Regions from separate parts of the Homo sapiens genome. Here regions 1 and 2 are each linked to region 3. Evidence: fine-mapped expression QTL. A gene starts in region 3. Each other region holds a variant in brackets. All regions are shown on one strand. Distances are between the middles of the regions. Region 1 holds the start of ZNF418 (zinc finger protein 418). Region 2 has its middle 110 kb from the start of USP29. Region 3 holds the start of ZNF606-AS1 (ZNF606 antisense RNA 1).

Region 1 (8,180 bases), 65 kb after region 3:
CTTCTCCCCAGAAGACCAACCCCTGTGAGATATGTGGCCCAGTCTTGAGACAGATTTTGCACTTGGTTGAACACCAAGGAACACACCATGGTCAGAAACTGTATACAGACGGGGCATGTAGGAAACAATTACAATTTACTGCATACCTTCATCAGCACCAGAAGCAGCATGTTGGACAGAAACACTTCAGAAGCAATGGGGGCAGAGACATGTTTTTGAGCAGCTGCACATTTGAAGTATCTGGGAAGCCCTTCACTTGCAAGGAGGTTGGGAAGGATTTCCTGGTGAGATCAAGATTTCTTCAGCAACAGGCTGCTCACACCAGAAAGAAGTCAAACAGAACCAAGAGTGCAGTGGCCTTTCACAGTGTAAAAAATCATTACAACTGGGGAGAATGTGTGAAAGCTTTCAGCTACAAACATGTACGTGTTCAGCACCAGGGAGACCTCATTAGGGAAAGATCTTACATGTGCAGTGAATGTGGGAAATCTTTTAGCACAAGCTGTAGCCTCAGTGATCATTTGAGAGTTCACACTTCAGAAAAGCCTTATACATGTGGAGAATGTGGGAAATCCTATAGGCAAAGCTCTAGCCTTATTACGCACCGAAGAATTCACACTGGAGTAAGACCTCATCAATGTGATGAATGTGGAAAATTATTTAACAGGAAGTATGACCTTCTTATACATCAGAGAGTTCATACTGGAGAAAGGCCTTACAAGTGCAGTGAATGTGGGAAATCCTTTAGCCATAGCTCTAGCCTCATTACACACCAGAGAATTCATACTGGAATGAGGCCTTATGAGTGCAGTGAATGTGGGAAATCTTTTATCCATAGTTCTAGCCTTATTACACACCAGAGAGTTCACACTGGTACAAGGCCTTATATGTGCAGTGAATGTGGGAAATCCTTTAGCCAGAGCTGTCACCTCATTAAACACCGGAGACTTCACATTGGAGAAGGGCCTTATGAGTGTAGTGAATGTGGGAAATTGTTTACTTATAGATCTCGTTTCTTCCAACACCAGAGAGTTCATACTGGAGTAAGATCTCATGAATGTCATGAATGTGGAAAATTATTTAGCAGGAAATTTGACCTCATTGTACATGAGAGAGTTCACACAGGAGAAAGGCCATATGAGTGCAGTGAATGTGGAAAATCCTTTACCTGTAAATCCTACCTCATCTCACACTGGAAAGTTCATACTGGAGCAAGGCCTTATGAATGTGGGGAGTGTGGGAAATCATTTACTCATAGCTCTACGCTCCTTCAACACCAGAGAGTTCACACTGGAGAAAGGCCTTATGAGTGCAATGAATGTGGGAAGTTTTTTAGCCAGAGCTCCAGCCTCATTAGACATAGGAGAAGTCACACCGGAGAAAGGCCTTATGAGTGCAGTGAGTGTTGGAAATCCTTTAGTAACCACTCTAGCCTCGTTAAACACCGAAGAGTTCATACCGGAGAAAGGCCTTATGAATGCAGTGAATGTGGAAAATCCTTTAGCCAGAGCTCTAACCTCACTAATCACCAGCGAATTCACAGTGGGGAAAGGCCTTATGAGTGTAGTGACTGTGGAAAATTTTTTACCTTCAACTCCAACCTCCTAAAACATCAGAACGTTCACAAGGGATAAAGGTTAGGTAACACACATAGGGCTGTTACGGACTGAGAAGTGTCCCTGCAAAATTCACAGACATAAATAAATAAATACGTATTTTCAATAACCATGTTTTATATTTAGTATATGTTCTCTGAATTTTGTTTTATACAAATAAGTTTATATGTGTACATACTACTTTGTCTCATATCCACACAGAAAACCAAATGGTTTCTTTTTTTAAAAAAATTCTTTGTGTTTAAATGGACAAATTATAATTGTACATGTTCCTGGAGTACATAGTGATGTTTTGATACCTATAACTTAGAGTGATCAGAGTAATTAGCATATCCATCACCTCAAACATTCGTCATTCCTTTATATTGGGAACAGTCAGTCTCAATTGCCATTCTCCTAACAACTTGAAATTATATATTATTAACTTTAGTTCTCCTGTAGTGGTATAGAACACTAGAACTTATTCCTCCTGTCTAGTTGTAATTTTGTAGCTTGTAACCAATCTTTGTCTATTCCTGCCTACCCACTACCCTTCCCAGCCTCTAGTATCCTCTGTTCTACTTTTTACTTCTAAGAGATCAACTTTTTTTTGTGGGGGTGGGGGACAGTCTTGCTTTGTCTCCCAGGCTTTTTTTTTTTTTTTTTTTTTTTTTTTTTTTGAGATGGAGTTTCACTCTTTTTGCCCAGGCTGGAGTGCAGTGGCATGATCTTGGCTCACCGCAGCCTCTGCCTCCTGGGTTCAAGCGATTCTCCTGCCTCAGCCTCCTGAGTAGCTGGGATTACAGGCATGCACCACCACCCCGGCTAATTTTGTATTTTTAGTAGAGACAGGGTTTCTCCATGTTGGTCAGGCTAGTCTTGAACTCCCGACCTCAGGTGATCCACCCGCCTCAGCCTCCCAAAGTGCTGGGATTACAGGCGTGAGCCACCGCACCCAGCTTTTTTTTTTTTTTTTTAAAGCTTCCACATATGAGTGGGAATGTGCATGTTTATGTTCCTGGCTTATTTCACTTAAATAATGTCCTCCATTTCCATCCATGTTGCCTCAGGTGATAGGATTTCATTCTGTTCTTTGAATAGTATTCCTTTGTGTGTATAAACCACATTTTCTTTATCCATTTATCTGTTGTTGGACATCTAGGTTGATTCCATATTTTGGCTATTGTGAATAGTGCTGCAGTAAACGGGGTGTAGATGTGTCTCCAATGTGATGATTTTCTTTCCTTTGGATAAATTCCCAGTAGGGGGATTGCTGGATGATATGGTAGTTGTGTTTGTAGTTTTTTGTTTTGTTTTGTTTTGTTTTTTGAGACAGAGTCTCACTCTGTTATCCAGGCTGGAGTGCAGTGGTGTGATCTTGGCTCACTGCAACCTCCGCCTCCCAGGTTCAAGCAATTCTCCTGCCTCAGCCTCCTGAGTAGCTGGGATTACAGGTGCGTGCCACCACCCCTGCTAATTTTTGTATTTTTAGAAGAGACGGGGTTTCACCATGTTGGTTAGGGTGTTCTCGAACTCCTGACCTCGTGATCCGCCTGCCTCAGCCTCCCAAAGTGCTGGGATTACAGGCGTGAGCCATCGCGCCTGGCATATTTGTAGTTTTTAGAGGGACCTCAATACTGTTCTCCATAATGGCTGTACTGGTTTGCATTTGCACCACCAGTGCATGAGTTCCCTTTTCTTGTATTTTGTTGGGTTTTTTTTTTTTTTTGAGATGGAGTCTTTCTCTGTCGCCCAGGCTGGAGTGCAGTGGCATGATCTTGGCTCACTGCAACCTCCGTCTCCCGGGTTCAAGCT[A/G]TTCTCCTGCCTCAGTCTCCTGAGTAGCTGGGATTATAGGCACGCACCACCACGCCTGGCTAATTTTTGCATTTTTAGTAGAGACAGGGTTTCACCACGTTGGTCAGGCAGTCTCGAACTCCTGACCTCGTGATCCACCCAGCTCGGCCTCCCAAAGTGCTGGGATTACAGATGTGAGCCACCGCACCTGGCCATTAGTTCCCTTTTCTCTGCATCCTTGCCAGCGTCTGTTTTTGTCTTTTTGATAATAATTATCCTAAACGGGGAGAGTGATACCTCATTGCGGTTTTGATTTGCATTTCCCAGATAGTGATGAGTGTGTTTTAATATATTTTTGACCGTTTGTATGTTGTCTTTTGAAAAATGCCTATTCAGATCGTTTGACATTTTTAAATTGGATTGTTTGAGGGTTTCTTTGCTGTTGAAATACTTCAGTTGCTTGTGTATTGTATTCTGGCTCTATTTTTTTTTGAGACGGAGTTGCTCTGTTGTCCACGCTGGAGTGCAGTGGCACGATTTCAGCTCACTGCAACCTCTGCCTCCCGGGTTCAAGCAATTCTCCTGCCTCAGCCTCCCGAGTAGCTGGGATTACAGATGTGCGCCACCACACCCACCTAATTTTTGTATTTTTAGTAGAGACGGGTTTTTGCCATGTTGGCTAGGCTGGTCTCAAACTCCTGACCTCAAGTGATCTGCCCACCTTAGGCTCCCAAAGTGCTGGGATTGCAGGCATGGCCACTGCATCTGGCCTCTTTCTTGATTCTTGATTACACTGTCACTGAGTGGGTTCTACATCAGAAAAAGATGAATAGGCCAGGTGTAGTGGCCGAATCCTATAATGCCAGCACTTAGGGAGGCCGAGGCAGGAGGATTGCTTGAACTCAGGAGTTTGATACCAGCCTGGGCAACATGGCAAAACCACATCTCTCAAAAATTAGCTGGTTGTGGTGGTGCATGCCTATAGTCCCAATTACTCCTGAATGCTGAGATGGGAGGATCACTTGAGCCTGAGAGGTTGAGACTGCAGTTGAGCCTTGATCATGCCACTGCGCTTCAGCCTTGGCAACAGAGTGAGACGCTGTCTCAAAAAGGGGAGAAAAAAATAGAATGTGGAGATAAGCAGATTTCAAATGTGAAGTGAAAAAGAAGCTTTTCATTGTTCAAACCATATTGCTAAGTGAGAAAAAGTACAGATGTGTATAGAATCTATGACTTTTTTCCTATAAGATGAAAAACTTGTAACATAATTGACACACAGAATAATGAAGAAAGGGAGACACAATTCTATGAGGATAATACTATACTGCAGATTTCACCTTCTGTTTTTACTTATTCATTAAATTATTTATTTGGAGACAGAGTCTTGCTCTGCTGCCCAGGCTGGCCTCAAACTCCTTTGCAGAAGTGATCCTCCCTCTAAGCCTCCCAAGTAGGTAGGTGAACAGGCACAATTTTTCTCCACCTTGGTATTGTTCAATGTTTTTAATAAAGAAAAAAAAATCTCAATGACAAAACCAACAAGGGGGACATTTTTAATCACATGCTGACCTTAATTCCATCTCTTCGTAGACATCACTGTTAAAACTTCTGGGCCGGGCGAGGTGGCTCACACCTGTAGTCCCAGCACTTTGGGAGGCCACCTCGGGTGGATCACCTGAGGTGAGGAGTTTGCGGCCAGCCTGGCCAAAATGGTGAAACCTTGTGTCTACTGAAAATACAAAAATTAGCTGAGTGTGGTGGCAGGCACCTGTAATCCCAGCTACTTGGGAGGCTGAGGCAGGAGAATGAATTGCTTGACCCAGGAGGAGGAGGTTGCAGTGAGCTGAAACTGTGCCATTGTACTCCAGCCTGGACAACAAGAGTGAAACTCCTTCTCAAAACAAACAAACAAACAAACAAACACCTGTAAAGTCAGCTGGGAGCAGTGACTTATGCCTGTAATGTCAGCATTGTGGGAGAAGGAGGCAGGCAGGTCAGAGGTCAAGAGTTTGAGACCAGTCTGGCCAACATGGTGAAACCTTGTCTCTACTAAAAATACAAAAATTAGCTGGGCGTGGTGGCAGGCATCTGTTATCCCAGCTACTTGGGAGACTGAGGCAGGAGAATCGCTTGAACCCGGGAGGTGGAGGTTGCAGTGAGCCAAGATGGCGCCACTGCACTCCAGTCTGGGACAGAACGAGACTTTGTCTCAAAAAAAAAAAAAAAAAAAAAGAAAGAAAAACTTCTGTGAAGTGTAAATTTTTTTCACCATCCACTCATGTTTCAATTGACCTATTTCTGTCATCGCAGTTATTAGATAGTCGTTGGTAATAAGTTTCTGTAACTGGCATTTCACCTGTTTTTCTGGTATCATATTAGTTCCTCATGCAGAACACTCCCCGCTGTCACAAGAGAAACAAATGATAATCACTTCCCAGGAAAGATAACAAGCTCGATAATTTAACATACGCCTAGTGTCTCCAGGTGGAGATTATCACCACCATTACCAATACCAAGCTGAGATTTCTCTTTCATTGTTCTTTACCTGAGACTGACTTCAAGTTCCTAAAATGAGTTGAAAATATAAGTTAGAATACCAAGTAAGGGATATTACATGAATAAATGTTTTGCTGAATGAATTGGACACAATAATTGACTATATAAGCAGGAGAGTTGTTTTTCCATGGGAACGACTGATTGACCTTTGTACTCTTTCTTTAGCCTCTCCTCTATCTTCCTTGGCATGGTCCTATCTGGATTAGTTCTCTTTTGTCCCTGGCAGACTGAAAAACCAACTCTAATGCCTCAGAGTGAGGCAGGAGAATAGGGAATTAGGGTAACCAAGAATGAAGGCATAAGCAAAAGAACAGCAGGTGCAGCTAGTTCTAGGCAAGATGAGGCAGCACACAGGCCACGTCCTCACTCCTGTGGTAACAAGACAGAAGTCTCCACTTCAGCCTCTGATTGGTTGTGCACCAGTCCTTCATAGGATTGGAGGCCTTTAAAGAACTCTTGGGGTATTATAAAATTCTAGCTTATTCATGGCAAAAACCGCAATTACTTTTGCACCAACCTAATAAAACCCTAAAAAACATTGTAATCGGGGTTCTTGAGCCGCTTGGTCGCCTGCTCCCACACCTACATTCCACTTCTGTGGAGTGTACTTTCCCCTCAATAAATCTGCGCTTTCATTGGTCCGTTCTTTCGTTGCTTTTTTTGTGTGTTTTGTTCACTTCTTTGTTCAATGCGCCAACAACTGGACAACTCACAGCCAAGACATTCTATCCGGTAACAAGAGTGCATTCATGTGAATTATAACAGAGTAATGTTTATCAGCCTCTGCTTCCAGTGCAAGCATTCTGTGTCTAAACGATTGTATAAAGTGATACACGAATTTGGATTTGTAGCCTTTGGGGGCCTTCACAGTATTTTTAGCGCCTGGGAGCTTGAATTTACAGAAATGTGAATTAATATTTTTGCAAACACTTAGGTGGTCAGTTACAAACAGGGATTCCCCAGGAATCTCAATATGGCCTCTAAGGAGGGGCGAGACCATCCTCTGCCCTAAAAGGGTACGCGCTTTAATGAACCCCCTGAGGTAGGGCTGGGACTTCCCTGCAGAAGCGCCTTTGGGAAGCGGCAGCTTTACTACCTTGGAACCTGGGGAACTACATTACCCAGAAAGCTCTACATTGAATGACAGCGCAACAGAACCAGTAAGGGCTCAGAATAAAGGCGTTTCTGTGTGCGCACGTAACGTAGTGGCGGGATTCTCAGCGTTCTCTGGTAGCGACCATTTTGGTTAATGTTGGGTGTGTTTCTGCGGTTTGTGAGGTGAGAGGCGCTGGAGCTATGGGTCCGAACCGCGGTGTCTGAACCCAGAAGGTGAAGAGTCCTTCTTGCTGCACAGAGGCAGATCTTAGGCCCCGTAACGGCGCCCGCCGCTCCCGGCAGTGCTTTCCCCGCGTACTCGGGATGGCGGCGGCCGCGCTGAGGCTCCCGGCTCAGGTAATTGTGCCTTCCCTGCCCTCAGGTCACCTCATCCTAACCCGAATCCTGAAGCAGCGAGAGAGCGGCGACTGTTCACAGGTCTGCAGCCCGGACCCGGCGTCGGGACACTGAGGCGTTCGCGGGAGAGGTCCTTGTTTCTGACACCTGTGGGATGCGGTGGGGAGAGCGACAGGCACAGGGACCGGCGCGGGCTATGGCCTGGAGGACAGACCCGGGAGGATGGAACCTGGGGTCCACAGGCGCCTGTAGGGAACAACGTGTGAGGCGAAGCTTCTCCTGGAAGAGCAGGCTGGGGGCTGTGTATTCGCTGTGAAGACGCTAGAAGCCATGGAGAGTTTCGAAGAAAGGAGGGATGCGATCCAAGTCCAGGCTTTTAAGGTTTCCCAAAGGCCAAAGGAAGAACATAGTAGAGGAGATGAGGACCTTAGGGTTCTGGGAGGTTGACTCCTTTGTTGATAGATCACATAGGTGGTAGAGATGACATTTTGCACTGAGACACGCAGGTCAACCAGTCTGAGGTCACCTGGCTCCAGCGATAAGAAAAGGTTCAAGGAGACCTGAGCTTATCAGATCCCCTTTGTAACGTCTGCTTTCCCCTCAGACACTCCTGGCTACAAAAGCACGTAAAGAACCCACTGAGGGGGTCGGGCAAGGTGGCTCCCACCTGTAATCCCAGCACTTTGGGAGGCCGAGGCGGGCGGATCACCTGAGGTCGGGAGTTCGAGACCAGCCTGACCAACATGGAGAAACCCCGTCTCTAACAAAAATACAAAATTAGCC
Region 2 (8,180 bases), 1.0 Mb after region 3:
ACTGGAGTGATCCAGGGTTGTTATTTTGCCCGAGGGAGTGTGTGAGAGAGAGAGTGAGAGCAGAGAGGGGAATAAGAGAGAGAGAGAGAGAAGAGAAGAGAAAGAGAGAGAGGAGAGAGGAGGGAAGAGAGAGAGAAAGAAGAGGGGAGAGGAAAGAGAGAGAGAGAGGCAAGAGAACAGAAAGAGAGAGAGAGGAGAGAGAGGAGGAAAAGAGAGAGAGAAAGAAGAAAGGAGGGCCAGGCGCAGTGGCTCACACCTGTAATCCCAGCACTTTGGGAGGGCGAGGGTGCACTTTGGGTGGATTACCTGAGGTCAGGAGTTCGAGAGCAGCCTGGCCAATATGGTGAAACCCCATCTCTACTAAAAATACAAAGAAGTTAGCTAGGCATGGTGGTGGGCGCCTGTAATCCCAGCTACTCGGGAGGCCGAGGCAGGAGAATTGCTTGAACCTGGGAGGTGAAGGTTGCAGTGAGCTGAGATCGAGAAGAAGAAGAAGAAGAAGAAGAAGAAGAAGAAGAAGAAGAAGAAGAAGAAGAAGAAGAAGAAGAAGAAGAAGAAGAAGAAGAAGAAGAGGAGGAGGAGGAGGAGGAGGAGGAGGAGGAGGAGGAGGAGGAGGAGGAGGAGGAAGAAGAAGAAGAAGAAGAGGAGAGAGGAAAGAGAGAGGGAAGAGAGAGAGCGAGAGAGCAAGAGAGAGATGCAAGGAGCAGACAGCCTTTCTAAAGGACTCACAGGAGAAATAGACCCGGAACTCCAGACTGCCAAAGAGTATGAGGAGACCCAAAGGGGCTACGGACACAGAGAGTCCTGAGGTCAGTAGAGATGTGGGTGAGGCCAGACGATTGGTCCAGGCCTTCAATGTGGAGCTCACATCTTACTGCAGAGTCTGGAAAATTCCATCCTCTGCGGATCTCTCGACACCTTCCCCACGCACTTGCCTCCCCCATTCCAGCTGGGGTTTCCATGGCAACAACCTGAGCTCCTGCACCATTCGCTAGAAGGTTGGGAGCACCGAGTGAGCAGGGAACAGGGCAGAGGGACGGACATCAAAAGTGTCCGTATCGGCTGTTCATGTGCGTATTTTGCACACATCGAAATGCGTCAGCAGCAGCAGCGTCTCCGCAAAACGTAGAAAAATGGCTTCAGGGGCCACTGTGGATGTGGACAGAAATCCCAAATATCTTCTAAGCAGCAGCATTTCACGTCCTTATTCAGTCAGACATATTCATCGAGCCCCCCCATCCCTCCAGACACTGCTTTAGACACGGAGAGTGAAATAATGTGAAAAAAGGAGCCGGGGACTCTTAGGACAGACAGCTGTTCATGCCCTCATTTACGCATCCATCCATCCTGTCTTTCAGCTGGTATTTACTGGGCGCATACTTAGTGGTATACCCTGGCCAAGCGTGGTGGGTGCAGCAGAGAACGCAACAGATGTATTCACATGCTGGGACATGAGTATTCTAGCAGGGGTGATACATGGGAACATAGGTAAGATTTCAGGTGGTGGCGAGTGTTATCAGGAACAATAAGTCAGATTCAAAGAGCAGGGGTGGGGTGTTTTAGATTGGGAGTCAAGGATGCCTTCTTGGAGGTGGTGATATTTGAATCTCAATGGAGGGAGGGAACAATTATGGGAATATCAAGAAGAAAAACAGTCCAGACAGAAGAATGTATGTCTTGAAAAGCCATGAGGCTGATGACTGCCCAGCCTGAGGACCATCGAGGAAGCCAGTGTGGCTACGGTGGAGAGAGCAAGGGAAAAAGTGGATAGAGATTTGTCGGAAAGTGAAGTAGGGGCCTGATCATTCAGAACAAGATGGCTGATTGCCAAACTATGGCCTGCCTGCTTTTGTACAATACAGTTGTGCTGGAACATAGACACATCCATCATTTGTGTTTTGTCTAGGACCACTTTTGTGCTATAAAGGCAGAGTTGAGTTGCTGTAACCTAGACTGCGGGGAATCCCTTTTGCCACATCAGGTGACACTCACAGATTCTGGAAACTAAGACGTGGGGGGTCATCATTCAGCTCACCACAGATGGATGAGTAGATAGGTTAATGGATGGAAGGATGGTGGGTGGAAGTATGGATAGTAGAGTAGATGGATTAATAGTAAGGTGGATGATTGTATGGAAGAGTGAATGGATAGATGTGTATACAGATTGATGGGTGGTGGGTGGATGGCTGTATGGAATGATGGGTGGGTGGATAGGTATAGGGTGGATGATTGGATGGAAGGGTGAATGGATAGATGTGTATACAGATTGATGGGTAGGTAGATGGATGTATGGAATGATGGGTGGATGGATAGGTGTAGGGTGGATGATTGGATGGAAGGGTGAATGGATGGGGGTATGTGGATGGATGGGTGGTGGGTGGATGGATAGGTGTAGGGTGGATGATTGGATGGAAGGGTGAATGGATGGGGGTATGTGGATGGATGGGTGGTGGGTGGATGGATGGGGATATGTGGATGGATGGGTGGTGGGTGGATGGGTGTATGAAGTGATGGGTGGGGGGACAGGTGTAGGGTGCATGATTGGATGGAAGCATGGATGGATGGGGGTATGTGGATGGATGGGTGGTGGGTGGATGGGTGTATGAAGTGATGGGTGGGTGGTGATAATTGGAAGAATGACAGAATTAATGCATTAGGTGGGTTGTTGCATGGGTGGCTGAATGGATGGACAGTTGGATAGTTGTGTGCATTAGATGGAAGTGTGGATACATGGATGGGTGGATGGATGGGTGGGTAGGTGGAGGGATGGTAGGGATTGAAGAGATACTTGTCTCTCTTTGTTATAGGTCAGTTTTATTTCAAACAAACTCCCTGGATTCTGGAGCTGCTCCTCTGTGTTGGCTGCCAACACCTCCCACTGGTGGGAAGTCCTATTTTGGGCATTTAAATTTCTTGGAATAGGGGTTGGTGAATGAGGAGGGTGAGCAACAGATGGGCTAATTGTGTACACACTTCAGTGACACAGAATGGTTGAGTAATGCTTTCCTTGTTATGCTCCATCTTCCCGGTGAGGTTTCTCAGGCTCTGTCCTGGGCACTGTTTTCTCCACACCCTCCCTGGGAGACCTCACGGTGACACGCTGAGAGCGATGTCTCAGCCACTGTGTTGC[A/G]GCCTCCGCCACCATCCTCCCTCACCTGACTCTAAAGTGAGGTGGAGCAATTGGGAAGATACTATCAGAACTTTTATTTCACTATGTGTTTCATTTTCAACCTTTTGTTTTTTAAGTGTGTGTGTGTGTGTGTGTGCGTGTGTGTGTGTATTTTTGAGACAGGGCCTCACTCTGTTGCCCAGGCTGGAGTGCAGTGGCAAAATCATAGCTCATTGCAGCCCCCAACTCCTAGGCTCAAGCGAGCCTCCCGCCTCAGCCTCCTGAGTAGCTGGGACTACAGGCATGTGCCACCCCACTCGGCTGAGCCCAGCTAATTTTTATTTTTGTAGAAATGGGATCTCACTTTGTAGTCTAGGCTGGTATCAAACTCCTGCTTCAAGCGATCCTCCTTCCCTGGCCTCCTAAAGTGCAGGGATTGGAGGTGTGAGACACTGTGCCCAGTATTTAAAGGTATGTTTGTGGTTTTGTAGTGTGTATAAGGTCTCCAGTCAGAAATGCCTTTCCTATCTGTTCCTGCTATTTCCCCCTCCTTTGTCAGGAGCCATTTTCTTTTTCTTTCAGTGTCTGCTGCACAACCTTAGTGACCTCCACCACCATGATTCCTGGACGATTGCAACATCCTCCTCCGTGGTCTCACTCTTGCCCCTCCCCTATAGTCCCTTTTACACACCTTAATTTCACTCCAGAGTCTGGAAATTTCCAGCATCTGAGAGTCTCTCTGCCCACTCCTCAGCAACTTACCTTCCTCATCCAATCGCATTTCCATGGTGACCACCAGAGCCTGCTTCTGAGGTCTGTACCAAGTGAGAGTGTCTGTCGGGGGACAGGTCAGAGTGATGGACATCAGAGTAGCTTAGCTGAGAAGCGAGGCAGGGATCACAGGAATCATCCACCCACCACCCATCAATCTGTATACCCATCTATCCATTCACTCTTCCATCCAATCATCCACCTTACTATTCATCCATCTACTCTACTATCCATCCTTTCACCTACCATCCTTCCATCCATTAACCTCTCTACTCATCCATCTGTGGTGGGCTGAATGATGGTCCCCCAGTGATATCCACATCTTAGTATCTAGAACCAGTGGGTGTCACCTGATGTGGCAAAAGGGATTCCCTACAGTCTAGGCTACAGCACCTCAACTCTGCCTTCATAGCGCAGGAAGGGTTCCCACCACGGTCCTCCTGTCAGTGGTTCACCATGACTTCTGTTCCCGCTTCACCCCTGGATACACTCGTTCATTCATTCAAATGATATTTATTTGCAGATGGGTTCAGACCCCTTTGCCTCTCAATTGTTGTTTGAGTCACCACCTGTGACACCCTCATCTTTCATCATCCTAAAGAGAAGTTCTGTCTTTCTCCTGCGGAGCCCTTAATGGATCCCAGTGATCTTAGAAAAAACAGCTCCTTCCTTATCACAGTTTGCGAGCAGCAGGCGCCCACAGTGTGCCCAGAGGAGGAGCCCAGGGTGGTAGCTGTGTTGGAAGGAAGGACCACACAACTTATCTTAATGTCCCAGCCCCAAGGAACTAGCACATATATCTTCAGGTTACGGAAAATAAAAAGCAATATAAATTTCCGGAGTAATAAAAGTGAAATAGTTTACAGTGCTTTATGCCATTGCATGGGATTCTTCCTGCATTGTTCTAAAGAATTTCAGTTTGAGGAACATTTGTAGGGCACAGAGGAAGTGCCCCAGCTGACAGGCACTTAGGGCGAGACACTCACTAAGTTCCAAAGGTGGGTTCAGCTGGGTGCAGCGGCTTACACCTGTAATCCCAGCACTTTGGGAAGCTGAGGTGGGTGGATCACCTGAGGTCAGGAGTTCGAGAACAGCCTGGCCAACATGGTGAAACCCTGCCTCTACTAAAATACAAAAAAAAAAAAAAAAAAAAAATAGCTGGGCATGGTGGCAGGTGCCTGTAATCCCAGCTACTTGGTAGGCTGAGGCAGGAAAATCTCTTGAACCTGAGAGGCGGAGGTTGCAGTGAGCCGAGATGGTGCCACTGCACTCCAGCCAAGGTGACAGAGCAAGACTCTCTCAAACAAAACAAAACATATATATTTAAAAATGTATATTTTAAGTGAAATATATAAATAAAAATATAAAAATATATAATTACTTTATATAGGTATTTATTTATATATTATTTCTACATACATTATATATAGACACTTCTTTTAAAAATTACTCTGATCCTCCAAATATATAGATAAATAGATAGATAGAGAGATGTCAGTAACCCCCAAACATAGATGCTAGTAAAATGTGGTTAAATTATATATACATATATATTTGTAGAGTCAGAGTAATTTTTTTTAAGAAACGCTTATTGGTGAGGGAAGTTCCTGAGTCATCACCCTCCAATAGCTGTCAGTGCTATCAAACAGTATCAAGCCATCAAGTCTCCTCACCCCCATCTTCAGGGTCCATCTGTAACGCAGCCTCTGCTGAGCACCTAGCAGCCTCCCCTCCTATCTCTCTCCCCACCACTCATTATGTGCCGCTGTGTTGTCTGGGCACCTCAGGCTTCTTCCTGACTTTGCACCTGCCCACAACTTCTTCCCCAGATCTTCCCATTACTGGGTACTTCCGACCCTTTGGGAGTGAGTGCTACCGTGCATTCGCCTCCTCCAGGAAGTCTTCCTGACCTCCTTTTGAAAGTAATATTTGCGCAGTATGGCCATTTTCACGTTATTGATTCTTCCTATTGACAAAGGGCTAATATCCAGAATCTACAAAGAACTCAAACAAATTTACAAGAAAAAAAAACCACCCCATCAAAAAGTGGGTGAAGGATATGAACAGACACTTCTCAAAAGAAGACATTTATGCAGCCAAAAGACACATGAAAAAATGCTCATCATCACTGGCCATCAGAGAAATGCAAATCAAAACCACAATGAGACACCATCTCACACCAGTTAGAATGGCGATCATTAAAAAGTCAGGAAACAACAGGTGCTGGAGAGGATGTGGAGAAATAGGAACACTTTTACACTGTTGGTGGGACTGTAAACTAGTTCAACCATTGTGGAAGTCAGTGTGGCAATTCCTCAGGGATCCAGAACTAGAAATACCATTTGACCCAGCCATCCCATTACTGGGTATATACCCAAAGGATTATAAATCATGCTGCTATAAAGACACATGCAAATGTATGTTTATTGTGGCACTATTCACAATAGCAAAGACTTGGAACCAACCCAAATGTCCAACAATGATAGACTGGATTAAGAAAATGTGGCACATATACACCATGGAATACTATGCAGCTATAAAAAATGATGAATTTATGTCCTTTGTAGGGACGTGGATGAAGCTGGAAACCATCATTCTCAGCAAACTATTGCAAGGACAAAAAACCAAACAACGCATGTTCTCACTCATAGGTGGGAATTGAACAATGAGAACACTTGGACACAGGAAGGGGAACATCACACCCTGGGGCCTGTTGTGGGGGGAGGGGGGGAGGGATAGCATTAGGAGATATACCTAATGTAAATGACGAGTTAATGGGTGCAGCACACCAACATGGCACATGTATATATATGTAACAAACCTGCACGTTGTGCACATGTACCCTAGAACTTAAAGTATAATAATAAAAAAAAGAAAGTAACATTTGCCCGTTAGTATCACCTCACTCTGTTTCTTTCTTGCACTTAGAATCTTCTGAAATTATCTTCTTCCTGGGTTGAGTTTTATGTTTATTTTCTTTTCATTCTCACAAAATGGAAGATGCAGAAAGACAGGCTCTTTGCAGTTCTGCTCACCGTTGTACCCCGATGCGTGGAGCACAGACCAGCCTACCGGAGGGCTTCCTAAATAAGCACTTACACCCGAAAGAGTAAAGAATTGGATTCCTGCAGCCAGTGGGGAGCTGGTGAATGCTGGACAGCCAACTCTGGAGGCCGGGGTGGCGTGCCCGGTGGTGTTTGCCAGCTTCCATGGTGCAAATGCCTCCCCAGCATGGGCAGCTGCAGGAGCCGGCCTGCTCGCTGGGCATGGAGGTGGGAGGAGGTCAGCAGCCCCCACATCTACTGCAGACACAATGGATGTCAATCACCCCCAAACACAGACGCTAGTAAAATGTATTTAAATAACTAGGAAAGCGTATGTTTAGGGTGTTTCCTACCTTTGTTCTTTACGTCTTTTTTTTTTTTTTTTTTTTTTTTGAGACGGAGTTTCGCTCTTGTTGCCCAGGCTGGAGTGCAATGGTGCAATCTCGGCTCACCGCAACCTCCGCCTCCCAGGTTCAAGCGATCTTCCTACCTCAGCCTCCCGAGTAGCTGGGATTACAAACATGCGCCACCACGCCCAGCTAATTTTTGTATTTTTTAGTAGAGACGGGGGTTTCTCCATTTTGGTCAGGCTGGTCTCGAACTCCCGACCTCAGGTGATCCGCCCACCTCAGCCTCCCAAAGTGCTGGGATTACAGGCGTGAGCCACCGTGCCCGGCTTACGTCATTTATTTAATTTTGAAAGTGCATGGAGTGTCCTGTTTACTAAACGATGTGCTTAAACATCTCACAAACTTCCTGCGAGTTGACGCGTTGGTTCCTGTCCTCCAGTAGAAGCTGGCTCCAGCACACCCCTGCTGACAGCACTCTACAGTTTCCATCTGAATTCTGCTGGTGAGCCCTGCCCGGGAAGGATTCAGACTCAGTCCCCCACGACACTGAATCTCAGGCCCTAGAGTAAGATGTTCGGTCAGAAATGACCCCAGTCCCTACACAGCAGAGGGTGCAGTGACCTGGGACACGTTCCCCCTGCTCTGCGGCAGTGACGGCTACCCGGGGTGGGAGAGACGGGGGTGGGCGAGGGGTGGCCTTGGCCCCAGGGGTAGCCTTGCTCCTTCATGTGTATGGCCTGAATCCTTCCTGCTGCAGCTCGCGGAAGAGTCAGGGATGGAATGCAGGGGCTGCAAGAGGAGGAGGGGAAGGAAGGACCGTCTTGAGGTTTGGGCAGCTCTGCTGAAAACAGGAGTGAAGATTTGGGTAAGCTTGATGTGCAAACACCTCTCTGACACGATGTCATA
Region 3 (8,180 bases):
CTCTTTTTTCTTTCTTCCAAAGTTGTTGCCTTCTAACTACTCTTTAATTTACTTATGTTTATTGTTTATCTCGTGCTTCCGTAAGTGCAGTGTTTGTTTTTTTTCACTTTAGGGTCTGGCACAGAGCAGGTGCTTCATAAATGTTTGCTGATGATTGAGTGATGTATGATCCTTCTCTTGGGAAAGTCATTTCCTCCGCTGGTTTCCAGAGGATGAAGCACTTCTTGAGAGGCCTTCATCTTGCTGCTGTCTCCAGGGAAGGGGCAATTCTAAGGCAAAAACCCTCTCTCACTGGTCTCACTTGTCCCCCACCAGGGGGCAACAGCTTCATAGCCTCTCACTACTGGGCTGAGAAGTGGAAGCCTAAGGGAGCACCTTCCTCTCTGTTCCCTAGTGCTTCCAAATTCCCCAGTACCCAGTGACACCCAAGTGAGACAGTGGAGCTGGGCTTTTCTTCCAGCCTTCCTCTTCCTATTGCTTTTCTCCTCTTCTATTCCTCCTACCTTTTAATTCATCCAACCATTATCACGCAGGAGATACAGAAGCTGGGGCTACAAATGTGGAAGCAAAAGACACCCCCGTTTTTTCTTTCACATTTTAATTGAAAGACAGTGTAATGCCATTACAGTACACTAAGTATACAGCCTGATGATTTCTTAACACGCGTATACCTGTGTAACCACCACCCAGATCAAGATATAGAACATTTCCAGGCCCCAGAAGACTCCCTTGTACCTCTTTAGTCAATGCTGCCACCCCCAGAGGTAAGTACTTCTTTCATCATGGATTACTTGCCTGTTCTTGAACTTCATATAAATGGAATCATACAGTATTTATCACTATACCTGTGATAATGCAATATTGTTGTGTGGATATGTGGCTAATTATTATTTATTTATTTTTTTGAGACGGAGTTTTGCTCTTTTTGCCCATGCTGGAGTGCAATGGCGCAATCTCGGCTCAATGCAACCTCCACCTCCCGGGTTCAAGTGATTCTCCTGCCTCAGCCTCCCGAGTAGCTGGGATTACAGGCATGCGCCACCACCCCGGCTAATTTTGTATTTTAGTAGAGACGGGGGTTCTCCATGTTGGTCAGGCTGGTCTTGAACTCCCAACCTCAGGTGATCCACCTGCCTCAGCCTCCCAAAGTGCTGGGATTACAGGCATAAGCCACCGCGCCCAGCATGGCTAATTATTTTTATTGCTAAGTAGTAATCCATTAAATTGACGTATCAAAATTTCTTTATCCATTCTCTTGGTTACAGACATTTGGATTATCTCCTGGTTTGGACCGTCATAAATAATGCCACTGTGAGCATTCTTGTACATATCTTTTAGTGGACAGATGTTTGCCTTTCTTTTGAACAAACAGGAGTAGAATCTCTAGGTCATAGTACAGGTTTATGTATAATTTTATAAGAAATTGTCAAACTTTTTTCCAAAGTGACTGTACCACATTATACTCCCATCAGCAGGGTATGAGAATTCCAGTTGGCACCATGTCGTCCCATTTGATGCTGTATTTTTATTTTTGGTCATTCTAGAGGATGTGTAGTGGCAATGTCCTTTATTTTAGGATAAGAATCAGCAATAATAAGAAAAGAATCTATGTAGCAATTACCTTGCCCTTTGTTTATACAGAACAGTTCCAGCTCCTTTACTGGACTAAGATCGAAAACCCCAACTCTCATTGCATTTACCTTACCCCTTCCTATCTCGGGGGTTGTCTTAGTCCATTTGTGCTGCTGTAACAGAATAGCTGAGACTGCGTAATTTACAAAGAAATGTACTGCCTTACGGTCTGGAGGTTGGGAAGTCCAACATCAAGGTGCTCACATATTTGGCGATGATGAGTTCAAGATGGTGCCTTGGACACTGCATCCTCACCTGACAGAAGGTAAAGGGCAGGGTGGTGGAGGGTGGGGGTGGGGGGAGAGAAAGAAAGAGAGAGAGAGAAAGAGAATGCAAGCACATGCAGAATCTCTCCATGAACCTTTTACAATGGCATTGTTGACGAAGAGTCAAACTCTGTAAAATATTTGAAGAGATTTACTCTGAGCCAAATATGGTGACCAGTGGCCCCTGACGCAGCTCTCAGGAGATCCTGAGGACATGCCCAGGGTGGTTAGGGTTCAGCTTGCTTTTATACATCTTAGGGAGACATGAGACATCAATCAATACATATAAGATGTATACTGGTACAGAAAGTTTCCAGGTTATAGGCAGATTTAAAGATTTCTGATTGCCAATTGATTTAAAGAGTTATTGTCAATAGAAAGGAATGTCTGGGGTTGTGGAACTCAAGGTTTTACCAAGCAGATGAAACCTCCGGAGATAACAGACTGTAAATGTTTCTTATCAGACTTAAAGAGTCTGTTCTATCACTAATTCTAGAAGGGAGGAGGGTATAATGAGGCAAGTCCAGCTTCTGCTTCCCATCATGGCCCGAACTCATTTTTCAAATTAACTTTGGAATGCCCTTGGCTGAGAGGAGGGGTCTATTCATATGGTTGGGGGGTGGGGGGCTTAGAATTTTATTTTTTGGTTTACAACATTAATCCATTCATGACAGCAGAGCCTTATGACCTCCATAAATCCCATTAGACCCTGCCTCCCAACACTACTGCACTGGGGAGTAAGTTTCAACATGAATTTTGGAGAGGATAAAAACATTCAAATCATAGCAGGGGTGTTTTTCTTCATCTGGTTTCCTGACACCTTTAGGTCAAAGGTATCTCTCTCATTTGAGTTCCCTCTCAAAAGTGAACAGAGCTACCTCATCTCTCTTTAGAATATGAATTCTAGTCTTATTTTATATGAACATTGAGGTTTGTGTAGCAGGTATTTGGTGATTGCATATCTTAAAACTTGGCTTCTGTACTGTATGAGACTATCAGTTACGATACGAAGAAAATAAAAAGAGAGTAATACAATTGAGAATTAGGGAGATGAGTCACAGCTGGCTGTTACCAGGATGTGACATCTGTGCTGTGATCTGGATGAAAAAAAGAAAACCCTGGGGCTGTACAAGGAAGAAGATTCCAGGAAGAGGAAACAATACGTACAAAGGCCCTGAAGCAGGAATGGACTTACCCTGTTTGAGGAGTGGCTGGGGTCCAGAAATGGGCAGGAATGACAGGAGATGAGCTTGAGGGACTGAGGTGGGGTGTGGGATAGGACAGAGGCCAGTCCTGCTGAGTTTTCTAAGCTGTGAGCTGGAATTTGGATTTTACTTTAATTACTTGGGAAGCCAGTGCAGAATGTGAGGCAAGGACCTGATGTGAGATCCTAAAAGTGCCCTTGGCTGCCTGCTGGAGGATGAGCTGTAGGGGGCTGGAGTGGAAGTGGAGAGACACTCTCTTCTTACTTCTGTCACTCTTCCTTCTCCAGCCTCTCTTTCTCTGCTTGATCCTGAGATGGAAATTGTGGCTGTACCATCCATAGATTGCTTTCCTCTCAGTGCCCACTCTGACTGGGTTCACCTTCCTGCCAGCTGGGGCCTGTCCCAACACCTTGCCCCTTCCACCTTACCTCTCTCATGGTCCTCTCCCTCGAATTCAGCCTGTCCTACTTGAAATTTTCCTCTCCCTTGAATTCAGCCTGTCCTACTTGAACTTTTCCTCTCCCTCTGAAAGGGCTACTCCCCTTTGCCCACCCACAGTGAGTGCCAACACCACCCAACAACAAAAGCCCAACCCACAGGCCAGCTTTTTAAAATGATCCTCCATTACTAGTGGAAATATCTTCAAAATCTCTCTTGCCCACTGCTCACTCAAGTCTAGCTTCCTAAATGGCCATGCTTTCTTTGGTATCACCACCTACAGTCCCTCAGTCCCTTTTTTTGAGACAGAGTCTTGCCCTGCTGCCCAGGCTGGAGTGCAATGGCTTGATCTCGGCTTACTGTAGCCTCCGCTTCCCGGGTTCAAGCGATTCTCCTGCCTCAGCCTCCCAAGTAGCTGGGTACAGGTGCCCTCCACCAAGCCCGGCTAATTTTTGGTATTTTTAGTAGAGACGAGGTTTTATCATGTTGCCCAGACTGGTCTCGGAACTCCTGACCTCAGGCGATCCACCTGCCTTGGCCTCCCAAAGTGCTGGGATTACAGCTGTGAGCCACCGCGCCCGGCCCGTTTTTGTTTGTTTTAATGCCGGGTCTTGCTCTGTTGCCCAGGCTGAAGTGCAGTGGTGCGATCATAGCTCACTGCAACCTTGACCTCCCAGGCTCAAGCAATCCTTCCACCGCAACCTCCTAAGTAGCGGGGACTACAGGCGCGCGCCATCACACCGGGCTAATTTTTGTATTTTTTTTGTAGAGATGTGGTCTCGCTATGTTGCCCAGGGTGGTGTCGAACTCCTGAACTCAACTGATCCTCCCGCCACAGCTTCCCGAAGTGCTGGGACTACAGGAATGAGCCACCGCTCCCGAACCGCTCCATGCATATCGATAGAGGAAAACTCACAGGGTGCGTCGCTGGTAACCCATGCTCCCATAAAGCCTGGCCTCTGGAAAGAGACTTGGGAACGAGCCCTGACGTTCTCAGCCGTCGAGCTTCACAGAGAAGGGTAGCTCGAATTAGGTTCCTTATCTTAAAGAGAATAACAGCAGTCACTTTCTCACAATCTTGCGAACGCCAAATGGAAGGATCCCTCGAGAGCGCTGAGAACTCGCCGAGCTCCTCCCGGGAAACCCGGTACCACGAGGCGCCATTTTGCGGATGGGCAAACCGAGGCCCGCGGGGCCGCGACTTACCCAGGCCTTTTTGCAGTGGGAGGCGACGGTGGAGGAGGGTGGTCTGGGACCGGGACAACAAAGTCCATCCTGCCGCCGGCTTCGACGCAGGTGCCAGAAAGGTCCCAACCCCGCCCAGGCAGGGCGAGGCGGCGCGGCCCAGGAACCTGTCATGGCGGCGCCGCTGCCCGACGCCGGAAGTGCCCGCCTGGAACTACAGCTCCCAGCAGACCCCGCGGCGCGCTCCGGTCGACGCCGGGGAAGCAGCCGCCATTGTCCGCGGCTGAGGTGAGGCCTTTGCTCAGGCTGTGGGGCCGCCGTAGCTGCGGGGCTTGGGGGGTCAGGAGAGCCGGCTGGGAGAGGCGGCGTCAGGGTGGGTCCTGCGCCTGCCCTTTCCGCGCCGGCTTTGCGCCGTCGTTGCCGTCGGTTCTCCAGCCAGCAGCCTGCCTCCGGCCTCCCGCCTCCGGGCGTTCTTCGTTTTCTGGTCGGACGGGCCTGGGTGAACTCTGCTGCACGTCGGCTCCGCGGGCCTTTGTCCCCGAGGCCGCGCCGGGAGCTCCCAAGCGCACTCCTGGGCCGGACCTCGGCGCGGGACAAAAGCCAAACGCCCCAGGCGGGCAGACCCCGATCCTGCTGCGCCGCCTTCAAGGGGGACCGCCGGCCGCGAGCCAGGTGAGGCCGGGACGAGCTTTTGCAGCGTCGCGGCCGCGTCGGTCTTGAGGAGGAAATTTGGGTCGGGAGCTCTGGAAGCAGGTGATAAGGATGCTTCTGAGGCCATTGATGGGACGAATAACCCCGTTCGTTCCCCAGCCGTCGTTTCTCCCCCTGCCAGTTCACACAAAGCACTGTGAAGGACGTCAGACCTGGGTTGGAAACAGCTCCGGGTTCCCTTAAACATGCAGTGACGGCGGCGGTCACTGTCAAGTTGCAAATAATGGTGCAAAGTACGGTTTGCATTCTGCGTTTTCGCGCTGATTCCGGTGCTCCTGAGGCCCACTGTGTGTTCTAGTGCTTTATACACATACCCAGGAATCCATTCGAGAGGTTGCTGACTTGTACAAAGATCTGGAACCTGAGGAGTTAGGGGTCTGGGCGCCAGGCCCATCTCTAAGTCCTCCACACACACACAAGCTTAGGCTTAGTAAATCTTGGAGGTGAATTTTTTTTGGAGGTGGGATTAAATTTGCATAACATAATGTTCACTTTAAGCACTTAAAAGTGTGCAATTCACCGGTTTTATTGTATATTAATAAAGTTGTGCAATCATCCCCATTATCTAATTTTAGAACATTTCATCACCCCACAAAGAAACCCTTGTTCCCCTTAAGCAGTCACTCCCCATTTCATTTTTCCCCCAGCTCTAGGCAACCACTAATATATGAGGATTGCAAGTTGATTTTACAATAATTGTCAGATTAATCCAAAAGTTCCATCTGTGTTGTGACTGGCTGTCTCTTGGGAATAGCTGACAAATTTGTACCCTCTCATTCAGGATCATGCTCTTTTTTCCAGCTTATGCAAATTACCTTTCATTTCTCTCCAGGAATTGTGTTACTTTTTTGACATGTAAATTCTCTTTTCTTACGATGCTCCTTACAAGTTTTTTTGTTGCTTCGGTGGATGGATTCCCTTCTTTGTTCCCACTTGGTCTTCTGTGAGAAAGGACTAGTTTTGTCTTTTTTCACTTTTGTCACTAGGTTGGGATTTGCTGTGTTCCTGGGCAGGTGCCTGGTCAATCAGTCCTCGGGATGGCAGCCATCAACCCGTGGGCCTCCTGGGGTGAGTCCAAGTTGTGTTTCTCCTGGGCCTCCCCTATCATTAGCTGCTGCAGTCATGGGTCAGAGCTGGTGATGGGCTGAGGACTTTTGAGGATGGAAGGGGGTCTGTCTATCTTGGTACAAAATTAGAACTGATTGGTGGTAAAGGAGGAAAATTGTTGGCATAAAAGACACTAACTTTTATGTTTTATAGTCATCTCCTGAGAGGTGTCATTAGTTTTAAGGGATTTTTCTGGTGGTTTGTGGGGTTTCCTAAACAACAGTGATACATATAATAAAATATTGTCTCTACTGCTCTCATATATATTTTTACCTTTATTGTTTTTACTTATATAGCATTGGTTGGTAATTTTAAAACGGTGTTAATTAATAGTGACTCACCTGTGCATTGCCTGTGTGAATCCAGCTTATGTTGCATTTTTTTTACACACCCTTGGGCTCTGTTTATGGAATTTTGTAGTGCCCATTAGCGAGTCAGCCTCCTCTTGTATTTTGTCGCCTTGAATCACTAGGTTTGGTGTCACAGTCCTAACCTGATCCTTCTGTGCAGGTGCCCTTACGGACCAATCTTGGGGGATGACAGCTGTTGACCCATGGGCCTCCTGGGGTGAGTCAAGAGCCTGGTCAGCTGTGGGCTGCCATATTGTGGCCTCTGGCTGTAGTGCTCTGCCACAGCTGGGGAATAGAATGGGGACCAGGTGGGGCTTTAGGGCAGGTGGTCCAGATCTGTCTCTGTGCAGAGCTGGAACAAGGAGGAATCAGAAAACTAGTGGCCAGGCGTGGTGACTCACGCCTACAGCACTTTGGGAGGCCGAGGCGAGTGGATCACGAGGTCAGGAGATCGAGACCATCCTGGCTAACACGGTGAAACCCCGTCTCTACTAAAACAAAATACAAAAAATTAGCTGGGCGTGGTGGTGGGCGCCTGTAGTCCCAGCTGCTCGGGAGGCTGAGGCAGGAGAATGGCGTGAAGCCAGGAGGCGGAGCGTGCAGTGAGCCAAGATCGTGCCACTGCACTCCAGCCTGGGCGACAGAGCGAGACTCAGTCTCAAAAAAAAAAAGAAAACCAGTGAGCAGTAAGGTGATGGTGACATCTCAAGATGCATGAGAATTCATGTGTGGCCGTTTAGGGTTCAGGCCCAGGAAGGTTGTGACCAGACACTGCTTCTCAGAGATGGTACCCAATAGCACAGGGGGGGCCAATGAGAGATTCATGTGTTTAGGTACTTTCCTAACCTTCTCTGAGCCCTAATTCCTTCATCTATAGAATGAGGAAGTGGGTCTCTTTCCTCATTCAAGGGGGAGGGGCAGGGGCTGGTTCTCAGCCCCCCAGAAGAAAAGGTGAGCTCCTGGCAGCGAGAGCTGCCTCCATGACTTTTTTCTCGTTTCCTAGCTCTGTGTCCTCAGTATCCTGCCTGGCACGTGGAGGGAAGCCTGGAGGAGGGGAGGAGGGCCACTGGGCTCCCAGCAGCCCAGGTTCAGGTGAGATGGGGCTGTCCTGTTCCCAGAGGATGATGTCCAGGTTATCCCTGGTCATCCCAGTTGATGCGGCTCTCCAGTTTACAACAGTTGGAGTTTGGGTAGGGAAGGAAGCAACTGGAAGTTAATCCTTCCTGAGAGCAGGTAGGGAGAATTAGGCCGTTTTTAGTGATTCGGAGCCTTAGTGTCAACCAGTC

The links.
Region 1: its variant is fine-mapped to the expression of ZNF606-AS1 in esophagus mucosa (GTEx, PIP above 0.99). The same link has a PIP of 0.9 or more in aorta and tibial nerve.
Region 2: its variant is fine-mapped to the expression of ZNF606-AS1 in pancreas (GTEx, PIP 0.99). The same link has a PIP of 0.9 or more in unexposed skin.

Annotation. Positions count from the first base shown.
Region 1 is chr19:57,934,378-57,942,557 of GRCh38, reverse strand. It overlaps ZNF418 (zinc finger protein 418), which reads left to right and starts at 7,156. Exons shown (of 6, transcript NM_133460.3): 1 at 7,156-7,397. It overlaps ZNF256 (zinc finger protein 256), which reads left to right. Exons shown (of 3, transcript NM_005773.3): 3 at 1-1,725. The coding sequence ends at 1,634. RefSeq lists enhancers at 7,189-7,278, 6,871-7,753. The variant A/G (reference allele first, on the strand shown) is at 3,411.
Region 2 is chr19:57,003,529-57,011,708 of GRCh38, reverse strand. No RefSeq gene overlaps it. Among named protein-coding and RNA genes, the nearest start is that of USP29, 110 kb to the left of the region's middle. The variant A/G (reference allele first, on the strand shown) is at 3,131.
Region 3 is chr19:57,999,614-58,007,793 of GRCh38, reverse strand. ZNF606-AS1 (ZNF606 antisense RNA 1) reads right to left here and starts at 4,900. Exons shown (of 4, transcript NR_036508.1): 1 at 4,748-4,900; 2 at 4,458-4,583; 3 at 3,094-3,411; 4 at 588-1,887. ZNF606 (zinc finger protein 606) reads left to right here and starts at 4,974. Exons shown (of 7, transcript NM_001348022.3): 1 at 4,974-5,398; 2 at 6,424-6,505; 3 at 7,055-7,111; 4 at 7,898-7,986. The coding sequence starts at 6,475. RefSeq lists an enhancer at 4,623-5,042.